Linked DNA regions of Homo sapiens: all the other regions are linked to region 2. The links come from fine-mapping of genetic effects on gene expression. A gene starts in region 2. Each other region holds a variant in brackets. All regions are shown on one strand. Distances are between the middles of the regions.

Region 1 (8,174 bases), 160 kb after region 2:
CAGTTGGCCTTGGCAAGGGACAAGTTAGGGTCCCAAGGGGCTCGGGCTACCCTGCAGTTGCTGTGCCAACGAATGAAGCTGGGCAGCTCTGTGTTCCTCACCAAGTGTTTGGGCATAGGACCTGCTGGCTGGCACCGCTTCTGGTACCAGGTGGTGATTCCTGGGCATCCGGTGCCCTTCAGCGGCCTCATCTGGGTTGTGCTGATCCTAGATGGCCGGGATGGGCATGAGGTGGCCAAGGATGCTGTGTCTGTACGGCTGCTGCAGGCACTCATTGAGTCTGGGGCCAACCTCCTGTGGTCTGCTGGGGCTGAGGCAGGTAGCATGGTTAAACAGTGACTCCATTCTCTCTCCACAGGCAGCCCGAATGGGCATGCACAGCCTGTGTCAGGCCCCAACCCAGCAGACCTGGGTGGCCACTATCTGACCCCCAAAGGTGGGGAGGGGCATGGGCCCAGGCCCATCAGCCTCCCTGCTGGGACAGGGACCTATGGCACCTGGGGGCAGCTTAGGTTTTGCTTAAGTTGTGGTGATGGGCCTTGCCCTCCCCCTCCCAGCCCAGGGTCCAACCTGACCCAGTTATCTTCCCTGGCCATTCCTTGTCCCACCCCCACCCGATCATACCTTCCCCCCTCTGCCACAGCTTAGCATGAATCTTCTTTATTGTCCTGATTTGTCCTGTTTGTTGGTTTTTATTTGTGGGGAAGGGCAGCTGAGCCAAAGGGGTCAGGAATTATGCCCTTTGCCTCCACCACATGGCATTCTGGTTTTGGTTTCTGTATAGTTTTGGGTCTTTCTATGCTGGTTGTATTTATATTAAACCCCTGGTTAGTAAAAAAAAAAAAAAAAAAAAAAAAAAGGCCGGGTGCGGTGGCTCACGCCTGTAATCCCAGCACTTTGGGAGGCTGAGGCGGGTGGATCACGAGGTCAGGAGATCGAGACCATCCTGGCTAACATGGTGAAACCCGGTCTCTACTAAAAATACAAAAAAAAAAAAAAAAATTAGCCAGGCATGGTGGCAAGCGCCTGTAGTCTCAGCTACTTGGGAGGCTGAGGCAGGAGAATGGTGTGAACCCAGGAGGCAGAGCTTGCAGTGAGCCAAGATTGCGCAACTGCACTCCAGCCTGGGTGACCGAGTGAGACTCTATCTCAAAAAAAAAAAAAAAAACAAGAATAATAGTCTCCAATCCCGTCCAGGTTGCTGCAAATGCCATTAATTCATTCCTTTTTATGACTGAGTAGTATTCCACTGTATATCTATACCACAGTTTCTTTAGCCACTCATTGATGGGCATTTGGGTTGGTTCCACATTTTTACAATTGTGAATAGTGCTACTATAAACATGTGTGTGCAAGAATCTTTTTCGGCCAGGAGCGGTGGCTCACTCCTGTAATCCCAGCACTTTGGGAGGCCAAGGTGGGTGGATCACAAGGTCAAGAGATCAAGACCATCCTGGCCAACATGGTGAAACCCCGTCTCTATTAAAAGTACAGAAATTAGCTGGGCATAGTGGCACACGCCTGTAATCCCAGCTACTTGGGAGGCTGAGGCAGGAGAATCACTTGAACCCGGGAGGCAGAGGTTGCAGTGAGCTGGGATCGTGCTGCTGCACTCCAGCCTGGCGACAGAGCGAGACTCCATCTCAAAAAAAAAAAAAAAGAATCTTTTTCATATAATGACTTAGAAAGACTGAACTCTTACCTGGGCTGTGTGTGTTCTCTCTCTTTTTTAGTTCATTCACTCTAGCTATGTGGGGAGGACATTCAGGCAGTGTGTGGAGAAGTCCAGGTAGTAAGCCAATGAAGTCTTCAACCAATATTCAGTGAGGAACTACAGCCTGCCAACAACCAACGAGTGACCTTGAATGCATATTTTCTCCCAATTGAGTCTTCAGATAAGAGTGCAGCCCCAGGCCACTGCTTGACTGAAACATCCCAAGAGAACTGAGCAGAACCACCCAGCTAAGTCCCTCCCAGATTCCTGACCCACAGAAAGTGTGATATAATAAATGTTTTTTGTTTTAAGCTGCTAAATGTTGGGGATAATTTTTTTTTTTTGACATGGGCCTCACTCTGTCGCCTAGGCTGGAGTGCAGTGGTATGATCATGGCTCATTGCAGCCTCAACCTCCAAGGCTCAAGGGATCCTCCCATCTCAGCCTCCCAAGTAGCTGGGATCACAGGTGTGTACCACCACACCTGACTTTGGTTTTTTTTTTTAAAGTAGAAACAAAGTCTTGCTTTGTTGTCCAGGCTGGTCTGGAACTCCTGGGTTCAAGTAATCCTCCATCTTCACGCTCCCAAAGTGCTGGTATTACAGGCATGAGCCACCATGCCTGGCCCAATTGTTAAATCTTTTTTAAATTTTATTATTTTTTTCTTTTTTGTTCAAAGTGTTAATTTTTTTTTTTTTTTTTTTTTTTTTGAGACAGAGTCTAACTCTGTTGCCTGGGCTAGAGTGCAGTGGCACGATCTTGGCTCACTGCAACCTCCGCCTCCCAGGTTTAGTTCAAGCAATTCTCCTGCCTCAGCCTCCCGAGTAACTGGGATTACAAACACGTGCCACCACACCCAGCTAATTTTTTGTATTTTTAGTAGAGACAGGGTTTTGCCATGTTGGCCAGTCTGGTCTTGAACTCCTGACCTCAGGTGATCCACCCTCCTCGGCCTCCCAAAGTGCTGGGATTACAGGTGTGAGCCACCATGCCCAGCCTAGTGTTAAATCTTTATAACAACATAAGTACGAGGTTGAGACTTATTACCCTGTTTTACAGATGAGTAACTGAGGCACAGAAAGGTTGAGTTACTTGGCCAAGGTTATACAACTAATAATTACAGGATACCAAAACCGCTAGCTTCTGCCAGTGCTCTTAATATAAGGTTGAAAGAAAAAAGAAAAGAGCCAATTAACATAAAACATAGCTGTTAGAAGCCTCCTTCTACAAATGGCGATGAAGTCTAAGTTGATAATCATAGCCGCCTTCTTCCACCACTTCTTCCAATCCCCTTTCGAAGGGTTCTGTGCCTCATAGGGACACTCAATACTTTATTCCATAAGACCTGACTTCTTGGTGGTCTTGTTTTTATTGGGTTGCTCTACTTTTCCATTAACCAGGTCTTAGGGTCAAGAGCCTGCTAAGATGTGTCCCCAGTGAATTTTTGGCTTTCAGACATAGCCTCCTTCCTCTACTAAGTAACAGAGCCATTTTCCTCTTGCTAATCATAGGTAAAGAGGCTAGTTCGGTGATGGTTTTAGTTAGCTCAGGCTGCTATTACATACTGGGTGGCTTAAACAACAGACATTGATTTCTCACAGTTCTGGAGGCTGGGAAGTCCCATATCAGGGTGATAGCATGATTGGGTGCTGGCAAGGGCTCTTTTCCTAGCTTGCAGATGGCTGCCTTCTTGCTATATCTTCACTTGGTGGACAAAGAGAAGAAAGGCTCTCTGGTCTCTTCTTTTTTTTTTTTTTCTTTTTGTTTTGAGACAGAGACTCTCAGATGCTCTCTCTGTCCAGGCTGGAGGCTGGAGTGCAATGACATGATCTGGGCTCACTGCAACCTCCACCTCCCGGGTTCAAGCGATTCTCCCACCTCAGCCTCCCAAGTAGCTGGGATTACAGACTTGCGCCACCACGCCCAGCTAATTTTTGTATTTTTAGTAGAGATGGCTTTTCACCATATTGCCCAGGCTGGTCTCAAACGCCTGATCTCAAGTGATCCACCCACCTTGGCCTCCCAAAGTGCTGAGATTTCAGGGGTGAGCCACTAGCCAGACCACCTGGTCTTTTCTCCCAAAGTGCTGAGATTTCAGGGGTGAGCCACTAGCCAGACCACCTGGTCTTTTCTTTTAAGACACTCATCCCATCATGGGGCACTGTCAGCCTAATTACGTCCCAAAGACCCCACCTTCTAATACCATCACATGGAGGTGAGGGCTTCAACATAAGAATTTGGGGGTCGAGGCGGGGC[G/A]CGGTGGCTCACGCCTGTAATCCCAGCACTTTGGGAGGCCGAGGCGGGCAGATCACGAGGTCAGGAGATCGAGACCATCCTGGCTAACACGGTGAAACCCCGTGTCCACTAAAAATACAAAAAATTAGCCAGGCGTGGTGGCGGGCGCCTGTAGTCCCAGCTACTCGGGAGGCTGAGGCAGGAGAATGGCGTGAACCCGGGAAGCAGAGCTTGCAGTGAGCCAAGATCATGCCACTGCACTCCAGCCTGGGTGACAGAGCAAGACTCCGTCTCAAAAAAAAAAAAAAAAAAAAACAATTTGGGGGCTGGGCGTGGTGGCTCATGCCGGTAATCCCAGCACTTTGGGAGGCTGAAGTCAGCAGATCACCTGAGGTCGGGAGTTTGAGACCAGCCTGACCAACATGGAGAAACCCCATCTCTACTAAAAATACAAAATTAGCCGGGTGTGGTGGCGTATGCCTGTAATCCCAGCTAACTCGGGAGGCTGAGGCAGGAGAATCACTTGAACCTGGGAGGTGGAGGTTGCAGTGAGCAGAGATCGCGCCACTGCACTCTAGCCTGGGCAACAAGAGCAAAACTCCATCTCAAAAAAAAAAAAGAATTTGGGGAGGATGCAAACACTTAGCCCATAATAGTAGCCGCCTTCCATCCTTATTGATTCAGCAGCATGAGGAACTTTAAATGGCCAGCTTCGGCTGGGCAAGGTGGCTCATGCTTGTAATCCAAGCACATTGGGAGGCCGAGGAAGGAAGATCACTTGAGCCCAGGAGTTCCAGAGCACTCTTGGGCAGCATACTTGCCCATAGTGTAAAAATTAGCTGGGCAGGGCTGGGCTTGATGGCTCACACCTATAATCCCAGCACTTTGGGAGGCCGAGGTGGGTGGATCACCTGAAGTCAGGAGTTTGAGACCAGCCTGGCCAATACAGTGAAACCCCACCTCTACTAAAAATACAAAAATTAGCTGGGCATAGTGGCGTGCGCCTATAATCCCAGCTACTTGGGAGGCTAAGGCAGGAGAATCGCTTGAACCCAGGAGGCAGAGGTTGCAGTGAGCTGAGATCACACCACTGCACTCCAGCCTGGGTGACAGAGACTCTGTCAGAAAACAAAACAAAACAAAAAAAAAAACAGGCGCGGTGGCTTATGTCTGCAATCCCAGCGCTTTGGGAGGCTGAGGCAGGCGGATCACAAGGTCAGGAGTTGAGACCAGCCTGGCCAACATGGTGAAACCCCGCCTCTACTAAAAAAAAAAATTGCCAGGCGCGGTGGCACATGCCTGTAATCCCAGCTACTCCGGAGGCTGAGACAGGAGAATCGCTTCAACCCAGGAGGTGGAGGTTGCAGTGAGCCAAGACCGCGCCACTGCACTCTAGCCTGGGCAACAAAATGAGACTGCGTCTCAAAAAAAAAAAAAAAAAAGAAAAAAAATTAGCTGGGCAAGGTGGCATGCGACTGTAGTACCAGCTACTCAGGAGGCTAAGGTAGGAGGATCTCTTGAGCCTGGGAGCCTGGGAAACAAGAGTGAGATTCTGTCTCAAAATAAATAAATAAATAAATAAATAAATAGATAGATAAATAAATACATACAATAAATGGCCAGCCTCGGCTTCCAGTTGAATAAAACCATAATAGTATTTCCTGATCTACACATTTCTTCCTTTGGCACTAGGACCTCTGGACCCACTGAGTCCCGGGTCCCTGGCAAGGAAAGCAAAAATTCTTCATGTGAATTATTAGGGGCCACAGTGGGAGGAGCCACTCCCATCTCCTCTCCTCGGTTCCTGGACTCATTCTAGCATGGTCTAAGTCTAGGAACGGCAGTGCTAGCAGAAGTCCCGCAGGCAAGGGAGGCAAATCCACACCCAGAACACAGGTCTGTCGTTGTGAGGATGAGGCACTGTCCTTACACCCCAGTCTGGTCCTACAAAAAAGGATGGCCTCTCAGGGTGCAACCTTCACCTTGGAGCAGCGCCCTCTGCTGGCCGCCTCTAAGATCTGTGGCTACTTGCATCCCCCTTCTAATCTTTCCCTACCTCTGTTGGTTCAAATCATCTCTCAGTTTATTAATCCTTGGAAAGAATTACATAGCGGTTATTCACAGCTTGTAAATTACAATAGAAAGGTTCCTTTCAAATGGTAGAGTTGCACTAAAGAGGAAATTGGGTTTATAAGAAAATGGAGGCAAAGAACTTAAGTTTTAAGAAAAAGCACTTCAAAACAGAAGGGCAAATGGAAAAGGGGGATATAAAACAAACCAATAAAAATACCATCTGAGGGTGTTACTGTCCAAAATTAAAGAATAAGATGCATCACTAAGCCCTTTGCACTCGTGTTGACCTCGTAAGTAAAAATTATTACTTAGAATAATAATAAGTGGTGCACACTACATTCCCTGTCCCTCTTCTAGACTTTTTTTTTGTAGAAGAATCAGAAAACAATTTACTAACCTCCCTGTTTGATATTAAAAACTCAATAGGAAGGTTTTTAATATTTTCTGTCAGTACAAGTTGAACTTGATTGTGTCAACTGAAACCCTAGAGGTTTGTGTATCAGTAGAATGCAAGAACATTGTTAAAGTTGCTTACAATCTTTTTTGTTTTCCTTTCCATTCCATTGTATCAATTTTTTGAGTAACTTTCAAATGGCTAGAAAATGGTCTTTTTGCTTTGCCCTTTTATAGCTGAAATAACCAGCTCCATTCTTTTCATGAGTAGTAAGTTGATATATTTATTTATCAGGTATCTTTCAGTTGTCACTAAATACTGTAGTTTTCTTGTGTTGTATGGAAATTATAGTTCAATTATTCTAATGTGATGGAGTGCAACGAGTCATTGTAGAACTTTTCACCTGTTAATGTTGAAGTTATACCTCTGAACTTCTGCTGTGGATATCAAGGAAATAATAAAGCGAAAACCCTAAGACATTTGAAAAAAAAAAAACCCAGCCTGGGAAACATGATGAAAACCCATCTCTACAAAAAATACAAAAATTAGCCGGGCATGGTGGCACACACCTGTATTTCCAGCTACTTGGGAGGCTGAGGCGGGAGAATCACTTAAGCCCAGGAAGTGGAGGTTGCGGTGAACTGAGATTATGCCACTGCACTCCAACGTGGGTGACAGAGCAAGATCCTGTCTGAAAAAAAAAATCAATGAATCAAAGAATGGTGACCCTAGTAAATACCTGATACTTTATTTATTTGGCTCAATGAAAATAAAAAAGAGAATTTTATGCAAAAATTTCAGACAACTGAATTTTGCCAAATGATTCCATTTACTAAGGATTCCATCTTTGGTTCTAATGTAGCATATATTCCCTGTGGAGGAAATGGATTTCTCCAAATAACTGGATCCATAGTCATGTAATGCTAGTGGGGACAATCACCCCAGCTTAGATACCATCAAATGAATTCCAACATATGTGGGCTCTCCCATTATTTGTCTTCTCACCTGCCAGCCTGCCTCTCTTGGCAATGCTAGGATTCCAGAATCAGGCCCTAAGCTCAGCAAGGGCCTCCATGAGGGCCATATTACACCCTAAGATTCCCAGATGTCTATTTGGAACCACCTTTGACTTACTCCCTTATTTTGCCCCTGAAACTGCATGGGGACAAAGAAGAAATCATAAAAACAGGGATAATGGATATGGCCCTAAGTATTTTAATGTGGCCTATCAATAGTGTCGTCATACCATCCCTGTTTACCAAGCCTTTATGGCAATTTCTTCACCTTGATACTGTTGACATTTTTGGCTGGTCATCATTTTTTTATGGGGGAATTGTCCTGTGTGTTTTAAGACGTTAAGCAGGACAGGTGAGGTGGCTCACACCTGTAATCCCAGCACTTTGGGAGGCTGAGGCGGGCTGATCACCTAAGGTTGGGAGTTTGAGACCAGCCTGACCAACATGGAGAAACCCCATCTCTACTAAAAATACAAAATTAGCCAGGCGTGATGGTGCATGCCCATAATCCCAGCTACTCGGGAGGCTGAGGCAGGAGAATCGCTTGAACCCGGCAGAGGTTGCAGTGAGGCGAGAGCGTGCCATTTCACTCCAGCCTGGGCAACAAGAGCAAAACTGTGTCTCAAAAAAAAAAAAAAAGATGTTAAGCAGCGTCCTTGACCTCTGCCCAGATATTGCCAAATGTCACTTGGGGAGCAAAATTGGCCCAGTTGAGAACCACGGGACTAAAGTAAGCAGAATT
Region 2 (8,174 bases):
TCTGGGCTTCCAGGGAGCTTTGGAGCTTGGGAATTGCTGATGAGGGACTGCGGGCGTGCACCCCTCACGTTTCGCGGTTGGGGAGAGGGAGCTCATCCGAAGTCTTCGGACAGAGGTGGGCGTCGTGCCCGACGCTGAGCGGAGCGGGTCTCCTTGCGCCCCGGCTCCGTGCGGGCGCGGTCCCTAGCGCGCCACCCGCCTCCGCGCCCCAGCGCCCGGGGAGGTACCTGCTCTGCGCTCTCCTCCGGCGGCGGGACGTGCAAGTCCTGGATGACCTCGTAGACGTTCTCTGAGTCGCTGCGCGCCAGAGGCCGCGGGCACACCCAGGAGCCCGCCACGCTGCAGGCCTTGAAGCTGCCGCTGCTTCCTAGGAGGCCGGCGGGAGGCGAGACGGCGGCGCAGGCCAGGTCGTTCAGGGACTGCGCGGGCCGCACGGGCGCCGCGGGCCGCAGGTACAGGCAGGCTGGCAGGCCGGGCGCCAGGCTGCTGCGCTGGGTCGCGGCGCCGCGTTGCGCAGGGCCGCACAGGGAGCTGGCTCGGCCTCCGGACTCCTCGGGGGCGCCGTCGGGGCCCGCGGTCGCCGCCGCGCTCACAAACCGGTAGTCGTAGGCGAGCGGCTCAGGGGCCGCGGGGCTCGGGTGGGGACCTGGCGGCGCGGCGGCGGCAGGGTTGCCCAGCGCGGGCAGCTCGCGCACGTACTGCGCAGGCAGGTAGAAGGGGCGGCCGCCGGGCTCACGCCGCACGTGCCACCAGTGCTCGGTGCTGCGCCGCAGCAGCCGGTAGCGCTCATTCGGCCGGATGGCCACGCGGCGCCCGTCCTTGCCGGTGTACTCGAAGGGGTGCTCCACCAGCACGTACACGTCCCCCACCACGTCCGCCGCCATCGCAGCCGCGGCGTTTTCCTGCGGGCAACAAGAAGGAGGGCCGCGGAGGTCAAGACCACCGAGCCTGGAATAGCCCCGCACTCGGGGACAGACTTGGGTTCGAGTCCCGATCCTGCACTCGCCGTTCGCCTTCGGGCCTCAGTTTTCCCATCTCTAAAATGGGAACTTGCATAAAATCACATGTAAGGCTTCCATTCTTACACTCAGTGCTGGAATTAGGACAGCCCTTCGTTCTGTGGGGTTGATTCTAAGATTTGACCCTTGCTTCAGTCCTGCGGTGGGGAGATTGTGGGTAGTCTTGGTCCAAATCGACTGCGAGGGAAGCCTTGGCTTTAAAACGAGGGGTGATTGCCCGCTCTAAGGTCGACACCACGCTTGCTTAATAGTTGACTGCGCCTTAGTTTTCCGTCAGTCAAGTAGGAAGAACACCCCATTTACTGCCGCTCCCCGGCTCTGTCCCGCCTGGAAGCCTCCCGCCCGCAGAGAATCAGCAGAGGGTCTCGTAGCACTGCCTCCCTCCAGCAGCTTGCGCCCCGACCCCCTGGTCAGAGTTGGAATGTGGGCTCTGTAGGGGGCCGAGCGAACAGCTCTACCTGGGGGCTGTCGCTGCCCCCCTTAGTCCGAGGGCCTTGCTGTAGAGGCCTCCGCTGCCAATGCAGGGGAACCGGTTCTCTCGGTTTCTCTTTCCTTCCCCAGCTGCATCACCGCAGACGTGAGCCCGAGCCCGGCCCGCCCAGCCCGGCCCGCACCGCCCCCTGCTCTCCAGCTCTCACGCCGCCCCCCGAGAAAGGCCCTGCCCCTGTGGCCTGTCCACCTGCCCTGTGACCCCTACAGTGTCCCCACGAGTGGCTCCTGGAGAATGCACTCTGAGACAGTGACTATAAGTGCGGAGTCCCAGAGCAGGGCCACCCAAAGCTCTCCGGAGTGGTGGTCATAAGCCCCGCTCCCGCCCGGGCTTCGGGGTGTCAGGGATGGGGGAGAGCCTAACTAAATCTGTCTGCGCCCCTCCACCAAAGCCATGAGTCGGTTTTCTCCGGAAGTGCATGGCCCCTCCAAACTCCCACACTGACCACACCTCTTCCTGCCCCCTAAGGTGGCCCGGACCCGGGGCCAGGAGACCGCCGCTTGCCGAGGCAGAGGAGCAGGTTCCAACGGGGGCCCCAGCAGGGCTCCTCCGCCACTTTGTCAAGCGTTCCTCGACGAGGAAAGGGTGTAAACTGAGTCACTAAGCACGCTGGGCCCCGGAGGCGGGGTCATCGAGCTGCCCGGTGCTGAACCAACAAACCCCAAGCAGGACACTCCCCCGGCGCCCCCTCCCCTTGGACCCCGCAGCGCACTCACGTCGGCTGGGCGGGCCTCAGGGAGCCCATGGGCTGGGTGGGCGGAGCCGGCGGTGGCTGCAGGTTAGGCCCCTACCATCGCCCTGGGCGGGGTTTCCAGGGGCGAGGCCGGAGAGGCTGCGCGGAACAGGAGCTGGCAAGCAGAGCGAAGAGGGACAGGGACGCTCAGGAGTGCTGTCACCGATACCCAAAGCAGCCGTGTCTGGGTGGGGCGAGGAGGAGCCTGAATGCCTCTGCTGGGGACCTTGGGGGGCATTGGGACGAGGCCCAGAGCAGAAGGCCGGCACCTGGAGCCGGGACTGCTGCGTCTGAAGGGGCACTGGCAGGTCGCGAGCGGAGCCCAAGGAGGATGGGACCGCCCCCGCTCCGCCTTCCCCCTCTATTCCCCGCCCCCCCACCCCCCACCCCCCGGGATTTGCTGTCCGGGAGTGCCTGCGTCCCTCCTGTGCGCGGCTCTGGGAATGCCGGGCTGGGGCTGGTTGTCTCGTGCGGGCGTTCCTGTTCCCGGGGAGGTCATTTGCACCCTGAATCACCCACTGCGAGCCCTTCCAACCGGATTGCAAATCCGCCCGCTCCGGGCCCACCTCTTCCCTCACCAGGGCCTTTCCCGGAGCAGCCCGGCCGGGCCTGGAAAAACTCCGAGCGGGATTCCCAGCGCAGGGACGCCCACCGGAGCTCGATGTCTCGGGCTGGATAAGAAGGGGACCGGACCTCGGTTCCTTCCCCGACCCTGGGGAAACGCAGAGAAGGGGAGGGATTGGGGAAGCCGGGAGGATCCCTGGAGCGCGACAGCGCACCAGTCGCCAGGAGGTCCCCTGCGTCCACTGCCCAGGCGACTCAAGCTACAGGGGCGTCAACGCCTGGGTCGGCGCTGGGGGCCTGGGCCTGCTTCCCTCCAGCCCCCAGATGGAGGGCAGCCCTTCGCCTACCTTCTCCTCCCCGTGGGATGCGGCCCGCGCAGCTCCCGCCCCAGCGCGGAGACAAGGGGAGCAGGCGCGCGGAGCTCCCGGGTGCGGACCCGCCACCTGCCGCACCCTTCCCTTCCCAACCCTGCCCTTTCCCCACCCCCACCCCACTTCCCACCCCCAACCCCCGCTCGGCGCCCCACTCCCGACCCTGCCTGCCCGGGCACCTCGGGGCGTCCGCTCGCCGGCTTCGCCTCCACTTGCCCCGGCAGGCGCGCGTGGGCTCGGCGTCCCGCGCTCCCTCCTCGACTGTGCGGCTCCCGCGCTGCCGGGTTTCCTGTTCAACAATATAACCAGGGAGGCACCGGCGGAGAGCGCCGGGCAGAACTTCCTCCCGGACTGGGGCTGGGCTGCGGTTGCGAGAGACAATCCCCGGTGTCCTGGCTTCCTGTCCCCTCTGGGCCGGGCCAGCGCCTGAGGAGCGAAGACGCCACCCCCTCCCCTGCCTTTCCCGGGATCCTGGGCCGCACCTGGCTGTCTCCAGGGAGAAAGAGGCTGCGGGGCTGAGATGGTGGGACTGGGGAGGGCGGGAGCCTCCCCCGCAGGTTCGCCTGGCCAGATTGCCCTCCCACCATCCCCCACCCCCTCTTGATCCTTGTGGGGAAGGAGGGCCACCCTCCAATCCGTCCACAGGGTAAGCTCAGAACAACCTCCAGGAGTCCAGCCCCAGGGCCCTCCGCCTTGGGGGTCTTCTGTTGGAGAATTTTCTGCCTCTCTGGACAAGCAGCCTCGCCCTGATCTGAGCCTGCACTCACTCCAGACATTACAAGCCACAGCCCCAGCACACCCCCTGCCCTCAGGGGCCCCAAGGAACAGTTGTGCCTGTGGACCTGGCTGTGTGTGCCAAGAGCTGGCTGATTCAGGCCAGTGTTCTGGGAGGAAGAAGGGCCCGCATCCCAGGCCATGGCCTCTCTTGACACCACCTCCTGGGGACCCAGGGTTGGGTGGGAAGCTGAATCTGGCCACCCAGATTCAGAGGAACTCCCTTACCTCTATATCTTTGTAAGATATAGTAAGTAAGGAACTCCCTTACCTCTATATCTTTGTAAGATATAGTAAGTAAGGAACTCCCTTACCTCTATATCTTTGCCTCTGCTAGGCATTGCCCACCTGTGAGTCCACACTTCCTCTGAGAATCTGTGTGTCTGAGCCTTGGTGGCACCTTGGGACCCTCCAGGGTGGGCACACAGCAGAACTCAGCACTGGTCTTTGGTGCCCGACATGCTTAGAAAATAGTGGCTGGTGCCGGGCACGGTGGCTCACGCCTATAATCCCAGCACTTTGGGAGGCCGAGGCGGGCGGATCATGAGGTCAGGAGATTGAGAAACCCTGGCTAACACGGTGAAACCCCGGCTAACACGGTGAAACCCCGTCTCTACTAAAAATATAAAACATTAGCCGGGCGTGGTGGCGGGAGCCTGTAGTCCCAGCTACTCCGGAGGCTGAGGCAGGAGAATGGTGTGAACCTGGGAGGCGGAGACTGCCGTGAGCCATGATCGTGCCACTGCACTTCAGCCTGGGCGACAGAGCAAGACTCCGTCTCAAAAAACAACAACCAAAAAAGAAAAAAAGAAAATCGTGGCTGGAGGAATCTTCTCTCCCTCCCTACCTTTTAGGTCCCTCTCCACCTGCAGCACAGCCAGGCAGTGGCTGGCAGTGGTGATGGTCTTTGCGTGGGGTCAGGCAGGTATGATGCCCCACTCTGCTGCTTGGCGGCTGGTAGGCCTTGGGAGTTCTGCCTTATCTCTGCAGCTCAGATTTCTTTCCTGTCAATGGGATAGTAACACCCACTTCACTGGATTATTGGGAAGATTAAATGAGGTCCACTAAGCAGTGCTTACCACATGCCCAGCGCACACAATATATCAGCTATTTTTTTTAAGACAGAGTCTCACTCTGTCTCCCAGGCCGAAGTGCAGCGGCACGATCTTGGCTCACTGCAACCTCCGCCTCCGGGTTCAAGTGGTTCTCCTGCCTCAGCTTCCTGAGTAGCTGGGATTACAGGCACCCGCCATCATGCCCAGTTAATTTTTGTATTTTTGTAGAGACGGGGTTTCACCATGTTGGCCAGGCTGGTCTTGAACTTCTGACCTCAGATGATCCAACCTCCTCGGCCTCCCAAAATGCTGGGATTACAGGTGTGAGCCACCATGCCGGGGTACATCAGCTATTATGACTACTTACATTATATGATAAGCTCTTGGGGGTTGGATTGGAATCTCCAAACCACCTGTCCTCCTTCAGAGAGAAGAGGAAAAGGGGAAGTCTCAGCTACTCAGGAGGCTGAGGCAGGAGAATTGCTTGAACCCGGGAAGTGGAGGTTGCAGTGAGCCAAGATCACGCCACTGCACTCCAGCCTGGGCATTGGAGTGAGACTGTATCCAAAAAAAAAAAAAAAAAAAAGGGAGGGGAGAAGGGGAAACAAGTGGCCTCAGGGGCGCTTTGCTGAGGCTGGAGAGGGCCTGAACCCACCGGCAGGGCAGCACCAGGTCACGTGCTGTGGCCCTCCTCTGGGCCTCCCTCTCCCAGTTTCTCTTCTCTTCTCCGGGCCTACCATCTACTGTCCTGGAGGGAGGTGAAGCCCTTGGGGGAAGCTGGGGCACCTAGATTGGCAGAGGGTGCCACCTTGTAATCTGAAAGGGGCCTTTAAGGACAGGAAATCTCAGACCTGAATGTTGTCTGTTTCCATCCCATTTTACTGCAACCTGATTTCCCTGAGAATTAAGTCTGTTTCCTGCTCCTGTTCTTAAAATGGACAGTGGTGTGGGCCTCCCCTTGGAGGGGTCCCCTGGGCTTCTCCTGGAACTTCTGAGGAAGGTCAGCAGCCAAGTAAAAGTCATTTTGAGCCCTAAAACCATGAGCCCTGAATCGGGGGATCCACTTAAATAACCCTTCTTTCCTGAGCCCCATCTCTCCTTTATTTCTCCTCTGAGAAATGTCCCCTGTATCCTGAGGTTTCACATGATCCAGTGTCAAGGGTCTGTGTTTTGACATTTAAGTCACAGGAAAAGAAGCCACCGGCGTGGGATCAGCTTGAGTTGTTATACAAGTGTGGGTACACCTCCCCAGAGACCCTGAGATCCTACCCCAGGAAGAGCCTGACTGCTGGGCTTGGCAAGGTGGTTTTCTTACTCTCTTCTCCCTGCCCACTCCTGGCATGCAAGCCCTCTGCCTACAAGTGTTTGCCACGGACCTCCCAAGCCTTCCCCCGTGCCAGGGACTAACATGAGGGTAGGGGACCCTGACAGATGGTAACAGATGGCTGGTGGTCTCCCCCCTGGCCGTGGCAGTGTTAGAATTCAGAAGCCAGACCAGTGATGAGAAAGATCAGGTCTTTACTGCAAAATCATTCAAAACTCACACGGCAGCAATTCCTTCAATACATTGCAAAGACTCCTCAGGGCCAGAGCCCTGCTCACTAGGAACAGTGTATTGCATAAAATAACATTTTAAAAATAGTGTGGGCACTACCTTTCTGAGGGAGGGGAGGCGGGAAGAGTCAATGCATCTGAAAGCACTGGCAGCTTCTGGGGAACGGGCCCCCCAGGGCCTCAAACCTGCTGCCTCCGAGGGCACCTTCGGGGAGAATCCTCACAGGCCCAAGCCCTCCCCAGGCCAGGCTCCTGCCCACTCAGGGATGGGGCAATGAGGGCTCTGACTAGGCTGGGCTTGTGGTGGAGCGTTAATGTGGGCCATGGCGGTGCATAACCCAGCTCCTGGCTTAGGAGGCATTGGCGTCTGGGCACAGGTGTGTGCCATGACCGGGAGAAGCTGTGCGCAGCCTCCACCTGCCTGCCACCGTTGCCTCTGTTCTGCTGCACAGGCATCCAGCTCCAAGGCTGGGTGGGTGACTCAGCAGCTAATCGCCCCCAGGGAAGGGTGGGGGTGGGCTCATCTCTGACAGTGACATGCGGCTCTCCACCTGAGGCCTGACTCCAAGCTGAGCGCAGGTAAGACAGCTAGGACTGAGGGCCTGCTAGGTCCAGGAGAGGTGGGGGAAGGCGACAGAGAGACCAGCAAACCCACATTTCCCCGAAGCCTGGAGGGTCTGACCATCACTTTGAAAACAATTCCAGACTCCCACCCCAGCCCCAAGGCCCCTTCAAAGGCAGTCCTGCTCCGGGGAACTTCTTCAGTCTCCAGTGTCCCGGCTGGGCAAGTTCAGTGATGCTTTGGGAATTCATGGCTTTGTGAGGTGGTGGCTGCATCCACAGGGCAGTTCCCCCGCACGCCCTGCACAGCTTAGGACCAGGTCACTTCTCCACAGTGCAGGGCGTGGCTGCCTGCCCTCTCTGGGGTCCTGCCTATCTGTGCCCTGGCAGGGGTCAGTCAGGCAGAGAGTGTGACCCCGGGCACCCACCAAGGTGGGCCTGGAGCATCTGCAGCAGCGCCCCTGTCTGTAGAGGGGTGAGGAGCGCACGGGGATCGGGGGTGGGCAAGACGGCGACCCTCCATAAACCGAGGAGGGCTCAAAGTGCTGACAGTGCTGGTTTCCAGTCATTTCTCCTTCTCCTAATGGGGCCAAGGCCCCAGGCTAGAGAAGAGCTAGGGGCTCTGACGCTGAGAAAGCGGTGGGCTCAGCAGGCGAGACGCACTGGGGTGGGGAGTAAAGAGGACACAGAGGAACCGGGGTCGCCAGGACTGGCCCTGCCCTGCTGAGGGGCGGTTTGGCACTGGCAGTGAGGGCCAAGGAAAGGCACTGGGTGGGCCCATAGACCCTGTCCCAGCAGTGGCCTGCCCACCAGCCACCCGCTACCTCTAAGCCAGGCCTGAGTGGCTCCTGTGCATCCGCTGGGGGTGAGAATGTCTGGATTTCATGGGTGACTCACGTAGGGTCAAGAATAAAAAAATACTTTCTGTTGAAATATGAATGGGAAAAACCCACCTTAAAAAACTAGACCTTTTAATCAGGAATGTGGAATTGAAAATGCTCCCCAAGTCCCCTTTCCACAGTGTTTGGGCAGCCCTAACGGAGGCGCCGGGAC
Region 3 (8,174 bases), 36 kb before region 2:
AGGGTGGACTACGTCACCAGTGGGGTAGCCAAGCGGCAGCTGGCTGCAGGGGGTATGGGCAGTTGGCACACATGGACTACGATGTCCACATATGTGCCCGTGAGCCTCTGCTTGGGGGAGGAGGGCTCTGTGGGAGGGAAGATGAGAGGGAAGGCTGAGCCCAGGGCCTGCCCTTCTCCGGCCACCACATTTGGGCATGGAACTTGGAAAAGTCAAAGAAGTTTAAATTAGAACCTGGCCTTCCAGGTCATTATCAAGACACATTTGTCAAAGTAGGAGAATAGAACATATTTTATTTAACAGTTGTTAGCTTGATTGATAACTTTTAAATATTTAGACATATGGTATGAGGCCCCTGTGTGTACTCTTGCCCTGGCCCTGTTGGCAATGGGGTGGGCTTGGGTCAGCCTCACCCATCAGACCACAAGCTCCACCAGGGCAGGCAGCCCATGCAGTGCCCCTGCCCAGAGCACAGCACCTGGCACAGAGGAGCAGACAATAAATACCGGCTGTGAGAAACAAATGGGATAATCCAAGCCGAATGCTTGGCATGGTGCAAATGTCCAATAAATATCAGCTGTCATTGTCTGTTGAATAAATGAACAGGTGGGTTGGTGGGGCTGGGGGCCAAGAGCCACAAGCTGAGGTGGCTTGTGTCTGAGGAGGGAAGGGACCCGCTGTTCCCTGGGGTTCACGCTTCCTTTCTTGAGGTTGTGTCCTCCTTCCCCACACCCTGCAGGCCTGCCCAGCTCTTCGTGGCAAAGCGGGCCCCAGATGGGTGTACTTGTGTGTCAGAGTGCCAAGAGGGGCTGGGAGCTCCTGCTAGGGCTATGTCCCCCTCCCCTAGGACAGAACAGCTGGGACAGTTTCCCTCTTTGCCTTCAGGGGCCTCCCCAGGTCCAGACAGAACACACCCAGCTTAGTTCCTTTCTTTTCACATAGGCCCAAAGGTTGGATGGGTGGTAGCTGAAAGAACTGATTTTCCCCCTACCCAGGCTGTACTCTGGTGTGGGAGGAGCCTTTTCTGGGGAATGAGGTCACTCACTGGACCTTGAGCAAGTCACACTGCTGCTGCAGGCCTCAGCGTCCTTGTCTGTAAAATGGGATGGTGTGTGGAACTGGTGCATGCCGAGCGGCAGATGCAAGGTGTGCACTTGGTGAATGGGAAGAAGCCTTGCACAGAACACCAGTGGGTCAAGGACAGCAGAGGCCCGGGACCCCCAACAGGAAAGCAGATGAAACTGGCCCACAGCCAGCCTGTGAGAGGCTCAGGCAGGAGGTCATCCCTGAGGCCTGAGGAGGATAGCTTCAGCAGCCCACACTGAAGGCTGGGTCAGTCCTGTTTCCACAGTGGGGAAGTGATCAGAGCTGCCTCATGACTGGCACAGTGCCAGCACAGGGCCAGGGCCCACAGGGTCTCTGTGAAGGCCTCCACGAGGTGAGGGCCAGAAGCAGCCAGGAAGCCCTCCATCAAACTCCTCCTCCCAGCACCTACCATTCCAGAAAACAAACTCTCACCCCCACACACGCTATCGCACACGCACAGTAGGCGCGATGCAACAGAGAAAAAACCGAATTAACCCCCAAACAGGACGTGACGGGAAGGGAAGGGGGGATGGGGAGTTGGGAAGAAGGAATCACATTTTGCAAACTGCCCACTAGGGGTCACCGTACCCTCAGAACCGAGGGTGCAGAAGTCACACCGGCCTGCGGCTATGCGCTGGCGGAGGGTCCCAGAGAGAAGAAGGCCCGGCTGCGTGGCCTCCGCCGCCCAGCTTGTGTGGCAGGACCGCGGCCGCCGCCCCAGTCACAGGCCAGCAGTCAGTGCGGCGGGAAGATGTCCGCGCACTGCTGCAGGATGAGCTCCACCACCTGGTTCTGGAACACCATGGTCATGGGCATGCTGGTCTCTTCCACCTCGGGCCGCAGCAGCGTGGGCCCGAACACAATGGCCACGCTCTGCACCGACATGCGGTTCTGCTCGCCGTGCTCGATCACCCTGTGGCAGGGGTGGGTGGGTTCAGGGCTCCGAACTGCGAACTGCGGGGAGGCGCTGGGGGCTTCAGCCGGGACCTGCCTCCCCCTTCCCGCGCGGGCCGCCCGGCTCACCGGCAGAGGTGCTGGAAGAGCATCCGCAGAGTGTCGTGGTTGGGAGCGGGCAGCGAGCGCACCAAGTCACGCACACAGCGGCTGCGCCGGGCCTGGTCCTGCAACTCTGGGTGAGGGAAGGTTTAGAGGGAGGGAGTCGGAACGGGAGGTAGGGGGTATCGGCTGGGCGAGGGGAGCCTGCTAAAGGGGTGCCCCGCCACGCCCCTACCCCATCCGCCCCACCTGCCCCAGGTGCTCACTGATGGCCGCAATGAACTGGCGGAAGTGCGAGAAGGGGAAGAGGGGCTCGGGCAGCTCCCGAAAGAAGAGCTTCAGGGCTCCGGTGATAACGTGGACGTCCTCCCAGCGCCCGTCATCCAGGTCAAGGCGCTCATCTGTGGCGGAGGAAGGGAGGAGGACGGAAGGGAAATCAGTACCCCTTGCGCCTTCAGGCCCTGGGGCAGGGGTTGGGGACGGGCCTCACCGTGGTCCACCTTATAGCGTAGCTTCTGGATGGTGGCCAGGTTTCCACTGATGCGGTACAGCCCGTCGATGTCCAGCCCTGGGCCAGAGGGAGGCGCTGATCCCGGGTTCAGGGATGGGGATAGGGTGGGGCTACGGGTCCCTGCTATGACTCCCACTCGGGGCCTCCCGTACTTTCCCCCTGGACCCTGCGTCCATCCAGGGGTCTCCAGCCTGCGGTCCTGGCAGGAGGCCTGCGGGCACCCCAATGCCTGCCGCCCTCACCCCCGCAGCGCACGTACCGCGGGCCTCGACGGCGCGGATGCACTGCTGCACGAAGCGTGGCACCCGGCTCCTCTCGCGCTCACACAGCGCGGCCAGCGCGCAGCCGAACACCTGGTCTAGGGCAGAGGCTCATCAGCTCCTGCCCAGCCTGCGCCCCGTCCCGGTCCCGGGTCCCCGCCCCCCGCAGGCCTCGGGTACCTTTGATGTAGCCCTTCTCCCGCAGCGACTGCAGTGTGGGCCGCCTCTGGAGGAACTTGCGGAGCTTGTGCCGGACCTTGCTCAAGTCGCTCTCCAGGCCCACGGGGCCCAGGGCGGGCGCGGCTGCCGCGGGGAAAGGCAGGACTGAGTCAGGAGGCAGCGCCAGGGCAGGCCAGGCAGGCCCCAGCAACCGTCACTCCCCAGGAGAGGCCTCCTGGAGCCCCCACCCCATCCTGCCTTGCGCACACCTGCATTCGGTCGCGCGTCCTCCTCTTTCTCCTGCCAGCTTCCCAAGCGCTCGCTCGACCCGAAGTCCACTCTGCTGCTCTCGCTCTCCTCTGGGGGCAGCTCTGCGGACTGGATTCCCATAGCCTCAGAGAGGCGGGGCCTTGAGCCAGCTGCGGGTCCTTCCAGGATGGGGCAAGGGAC[C/T]CGAAATGCACTCCCAACAGGCATGGCCTGGAGACCCTCAGCGAAGAGTCCTCTCTTCCCTTAACCAGGTTAACTCTCCTTACCTCCACCAGTGAGCCTGAGAACATTCACCTCCCTTAGCTGCATGGAGCCCTTAAGGTGCAGAGACAGTCATCCTGTTCTCCCACACCCCTTCCTATCCTGGGGACTCCTACCCACCTGGTGCCTTCTTTCTCTATTTTCCTCAGCTCCTCTAACTGGGTCAGCATTCCTCAATACGTGGCTCCCAGTTCTGAGCCTGCACCTCCAGCTGTGGCCGGAGCACTGCCAACAACTGCACCAATATCACCTCTCTGGCTCTGGATTCCTACCTCTATTAATACAGCCAAAAGCTTCACTCAATGTTGGCTCATAGGGAATTAAGGGTCAAAAAGCCCCAGGTCATTTCCAGGTCAGTAGTTGTCAGAGGGCCCCTGTCCTAGCTCTACTTATGCAATTGGTGTTTTCAGCCTTAAAAAAATGGTCGACTATTGAAATCAATCCTTTAAAATTTTATCTGCTAGTTTCAGCCTGCCATTGGTTGGCTTGCAGAGTATTTATTTGGCCTTCTGCCTCCCGTGAAATGGGAACTTCCTTTAGAATGTGCCCTACCCTCACCTGGAGAGTCTTCCTGCAGGGCCAACCCCAGGGCTGGATTCACAGACTTACAGAAGGCAGTTTCTTCAGCCGCCTACCCTGCCATCCTAGCCATTAGTGGGGACTGCATTTGCATTACCCACTGGTACCTTAGAGCTCCCTGAGCCTGAGCAGAGGGCCCCACTCATAATGGCCACCCCCTCCCCACTGCCCCTAGAGGCCCTGGGCTCTGCTTACCAGCTCCTGGATGCCCTGAGCAATGGCCTTATGCCAGGTGCTGATGATGGCCTCCGAGTCGTGCTGGATCAGGTACTCAGAGCCATCTCGGCTCCGTAGCTGGAGGGACACAAGTCAGTGGGTCATCTCTGGTACCCTGGGTCTGCCCTGGGGGTTGGCCCTAGTTGGGGGTAGGTACAGAGATAGAGGTGACCTGTCCCTGCCCCCAGGCACTCAGAGCTTAATGGAGCAAGGGCCTCACCCCAGGCTAAGTCTTGGATCTCTGCCTCACGTAAAGCAGTGGCTGACAGCATCTCTGTGTTACAGATGAGCAAACTGAGGCTCAGCAAGTTTTAGCTGCTTCCTCATGGGCACACAGCTAGTGAGTGATGAGCACAGAGCTGCATGGCTCAATTGTCTGGTACACTTTCCCTCCCCCATCCTGCCTCCCTGCAAGCCACAGAACATGGCAGGCCTCATGCAGAGCACTGGCCTGCAAACTAAGTGAAAGAAACTTCCTATGTGAGGCCAGGCACGATGGCTCATACCTGTAATCCCAGCACTTTGGGAGGCCGAGGCGGGCAGATCATGAGGTCAGGAGTTTGAGACCAGCCTGGCCAACATGGTGAAACCCCGTCTCTACTAAAAATACAAAAATTAGCCAGGCATGGTGGCGGGCTCCTGTAATCCCAGCTACTTGGGAAGCTGAGGCAGAAGAACTGCTTGAACCCGGGAAGCGGAGGTTACCGTGAGCCGAGATCATGCCACTGCACTTCACCCTGGGCGACAGAGCAAGACTCCGTCTCAAAAAAAAAAAAACAAAACAAAACCCAGAAACTTCCTATGTTGAGACCCCTGTCTACTAGAAGCAACAGTGAATATAGGGAGAGAGGATTTGAAAGCTGATCATGGCTGATCCCAGGGAAAGAAAGGTCTCCCCTTGCCCCTCCCCATACACACACTGAGGACTCAGAAACGTTGTCCCACCTTCTGCAGCCAGGAGTCCCCACCACCTCCCACACTCCAGCCTGGGCAACACATCTTCTGTTAGCCCGCTTCATCATGAAGCATAAATTAAACAGAACACCAGAGGGAAACTTGCCACCATAGGACTGACGCTCAAAGCCCTTTCTGAGTTGGATGGCAGCTTAGTTGGATTCCTTATCAGCCTCTGGCTCTGAGGACCCAGTGTTCCAGGTTAATGTGAATGTTTGGCGGCAACAGCTCACACCAACCCTGCCCTTTTGGTTCAGCGAGAGTCAGAGACAACAGAAACTGTCTCAGACCCCAGGACACAACTTCTAGAATTGGATTGGACTATCTTTGCTGTCCTTTTAAACTTATACTTGAAGACTATTTAAACTGCTTTTTAAAATGAAATGAGGCTGGGCGCAGTGGCTCATGCCTGTAATCCCAGCACTTTGGGAGGCTGAGGCGGGTGGATCATGAGGTCAGGAGATGGAGACCATTCTGGCTAACACAGTGAAACCCTGCCACTACTAAAAATGCAAAAAATTAGCTGGGCCTGGTGGCACGCACCTGTAGTCCCAGCTACTCGGGAGGCTGAGGCAGGAGAATCGCTTGAACCCGGGAGGCAGAGATTGCAGTGAGCCGAGATCGCACCACTGCACTCCAGCCAGGGCAACAGAGCAACACTCTGTCTCAAAGAAAAGAAAAGAAAAGAAAAGAAAAGAAAATGGCATATCTCATCCCCTAGCCCTCCCCTGCAAAGGACAGAGAACCTTCAAGAGGCAGATAACACAGCCTCACTCTAATCAAAGCAGACAAGAGCCCTGCTCAAGATTATCCCAGAGAATGGCTTGACAACACTTCTAAAACAACAGCCATGATTTTTGGCAGCTCTCTCAAAACATAATCAGTTCATATTTGCAAGTTTCATATAGAGGGCAAAGCTGTATCATTACATAGCAATGTATTTCACAAAATATTCACCCCCAGCCAGGCACAACGGCTCATGCCCATAATCCTAGTGCTTTGGAAGGGCAAGGTGGGAGGAGTCCTTGAGACCAGGAGTTCAATCCTGGGCAATATAGTGAGACCCTATATCTAGAAAAATTTTTACAAATTAGCCAGACATGCTAGTGTGCACCTGTACTTCCAGCTACTGGGGAGGCTGAAGTGACAGCATCACTTCAGTCCAGGAGTTGGAAGCTGCAGTGAGCTACGATCAAGCCACTGCACTCCAGCCTGGGCAACACAGTAAGACCCTATCTCTAAGAACAAACAAATAAACAAAACATTTATCCTGCTGACCGCACAGGCAAATGCTAGCAGCTTTTGGCGGACTGTTGCTGAAGTTTTCTGTAACTCGGGGTGACTAGAAAGACCTGCTGTGAAAATTTCCTGGGCCCAACAAAGCCATCCATCCTCAATGATATAAAATTTGGGGCTGTCTCTTGAGGAAAACCCTGGAGCTGCCTACAGGCCGCCCTGCATGGAGGGAGGATGGCCAGCAGTCAACCAGGAGGCAGGGGCTTGTGATTTCCATTCAGGCCTGCCCACCTTCCCACTGGCCTGAGCAGCACCTGCCTTCCAGTCCTTGCCAGCAAAGACAACTCAAAAAGCCCTATTCTGAAACTTTCATCAAAAGTCCATCAGTGATGATCTTCATTGAGAACTGTTTGAAGGATATACCTATCCCTCAAAGTCAGGGGAGAAACATGACTAGCACAGGTGATGTCTCAGACCGGGCATGGTGGCTCACACCTGTAATCCCAGCACTTTGGGAGGCCAAGGCAGGTAAATCACCTGAGGCCAGTAGATTGAGACCATCCTGGCCAACATGGTAAAACCCTGTCTTTACTAAATACAAAAAAATTAGCCGGGTATGGTGGCAGGCGCCTGTAGTCCCAGCTACTCGGGACGCTGAGGCAGGAGACTCACTTGAATCCGAGAGGCAGAGGTTGCAGTGAGCCAAGATTGCACCACTGCACTTCAGCCTGGGCAACAGAGTGAGACTCTGGATAATAATCATAATCATAATCATAATCATAATCATAATAGTGATGTCTCTCCTCAATTTAACACCATAGCAGATATTGTTAGTTGATCACAGAACTCTATCCTGCCAAGCCCAGAGAAGCCTTCAGAATTCTTCTCAAGAAGGCTCCAGGCTAGGCACAGTGGCTCACACCTGTAATCTCAACCCTTTGGGAGGCCAAGGCTGGAGGATCACTTGAGGCCATGAGTTTGAGACCTGCCTGGGCAACATAGTGAGCCCCCATCTCTATAAAAACTAAAATTAGCCAGATGTGATGGAACGCGCCTGTAGTCCTAGCTACTCGGAAGCCTTAGGTGGGAAGATCGCTTGAGCCCAGGGGCTTGTGGTTTCAGTGAGCTCTGACCGTGCCACTGCACTTCAGCCTGGGCAACAGAGCAAGACCTTGTCTCTAAAAACAGAAACAAAAAATAAAAACAAAAACAAAACCCCACAAGACTCCAGACCTACTCATCAGAGTAGCTCATGAGATGAAACCAGTTTTCCAACTTTGCTTTATAGATATCCTGGCTCTAGAACTGAATGGAGCTTGGTGAATAATCAGGAAACTACACTCTCAGGTTCCTTGCAGAACTGTTTTTTCTGAGCTTAGACATGAGGTCATGCTCTTGGCCTTCATCATAATGATGCTACCTGAAGCAGTCCCGGATCCTGAATTAAACCTTCCTGGAGCTGTTTTGCAGGGTACCTGGCATGTGCTTCTAGATCCCATGTTCATGGAGCTACATACAAGAAATTTAAGAGTGAAGGGTTAGGAAAAAGCTTTGATTCCCTCAACATCTGGGTGGGTTTTATTATTTGTTCAACAACAAAGAGACATGCACCTGATAGCCCTTCTCTTTTCACCTCACCTAGCAGGAAA

Evidence for each region. PIP is the estimated chance that this variant, and not a neighbour inherited with it, causes the effect.
Region 1: its variant is fine-mapped to the expression of ARHGAP27 in whole blood (TOPMed, PIP above 0.99).
Region 3: its variant is fine-mapped to the expression of ARHGAP27 in whole blood (TOPMed, PIP above 0.99).

The regions. Positions count from the first base shown.
Region 1 is chr17:45,586,591-45,594,764 of GRCh38, forward strand. It overlaps the pseudogene DND1P1. Among named protein-coding and RNA genes, the nearest start is that of LINC02210, 30 kb to the right of the region's middle. The variant G/A (reference allele first, on the strand shown) is at 3,971.
Region 2 is chr17:45,429,396-45,437,569 of GRCh38, forward strand. It overlaps ARHGAP27 (Rho GTPase activating protein 27), which reads right to left and starts at 3,475. Exons shown (of 20, transcript NM_001282290.2): 1 at 3,357-3,475; 2 at 2,821-2,954; 3 at 2,226-2,357; 4 at 228-902. The coding sequence starts at 884. It overlaps PLEKHM1 (pleckstrin homology and RUN domain containing M1), which reads right to left. Exons shown (of 12, transcript NM_014798.3): 12 at 6,505-8,174. RefSeq lists enhancers at 259-759, 760-1,260, 6,444-7,097.
Region 3 is chr17:45,393,635-45,401,808 of GRCh38, forward strand. ARHGAP27 (Rho GTPase activating protein 27) reads right to left here. Exons shown (of 20, transcript NM_001282290.2): 13 at 4,315-4,413; 14 at 3,282-3,390; 15 at 3,034-3,156; 16 at 2,853-2,951; 17 at 2,573-2,650; 18 at 2,349-2,483; 19 at 2,110-2,215; 20 at 274-1,999. The coding sequence ends at 1,822. Among named protein-coding and RNA genes, the nearest start is that of ARHGAP27, 35 kb to the right of the region's middle. RefSeq lists an enhancer at 827-1,486 and a silencer at 2,118-2,275. The variant C/T (reference allele first, on the strand shown) is at 3,463.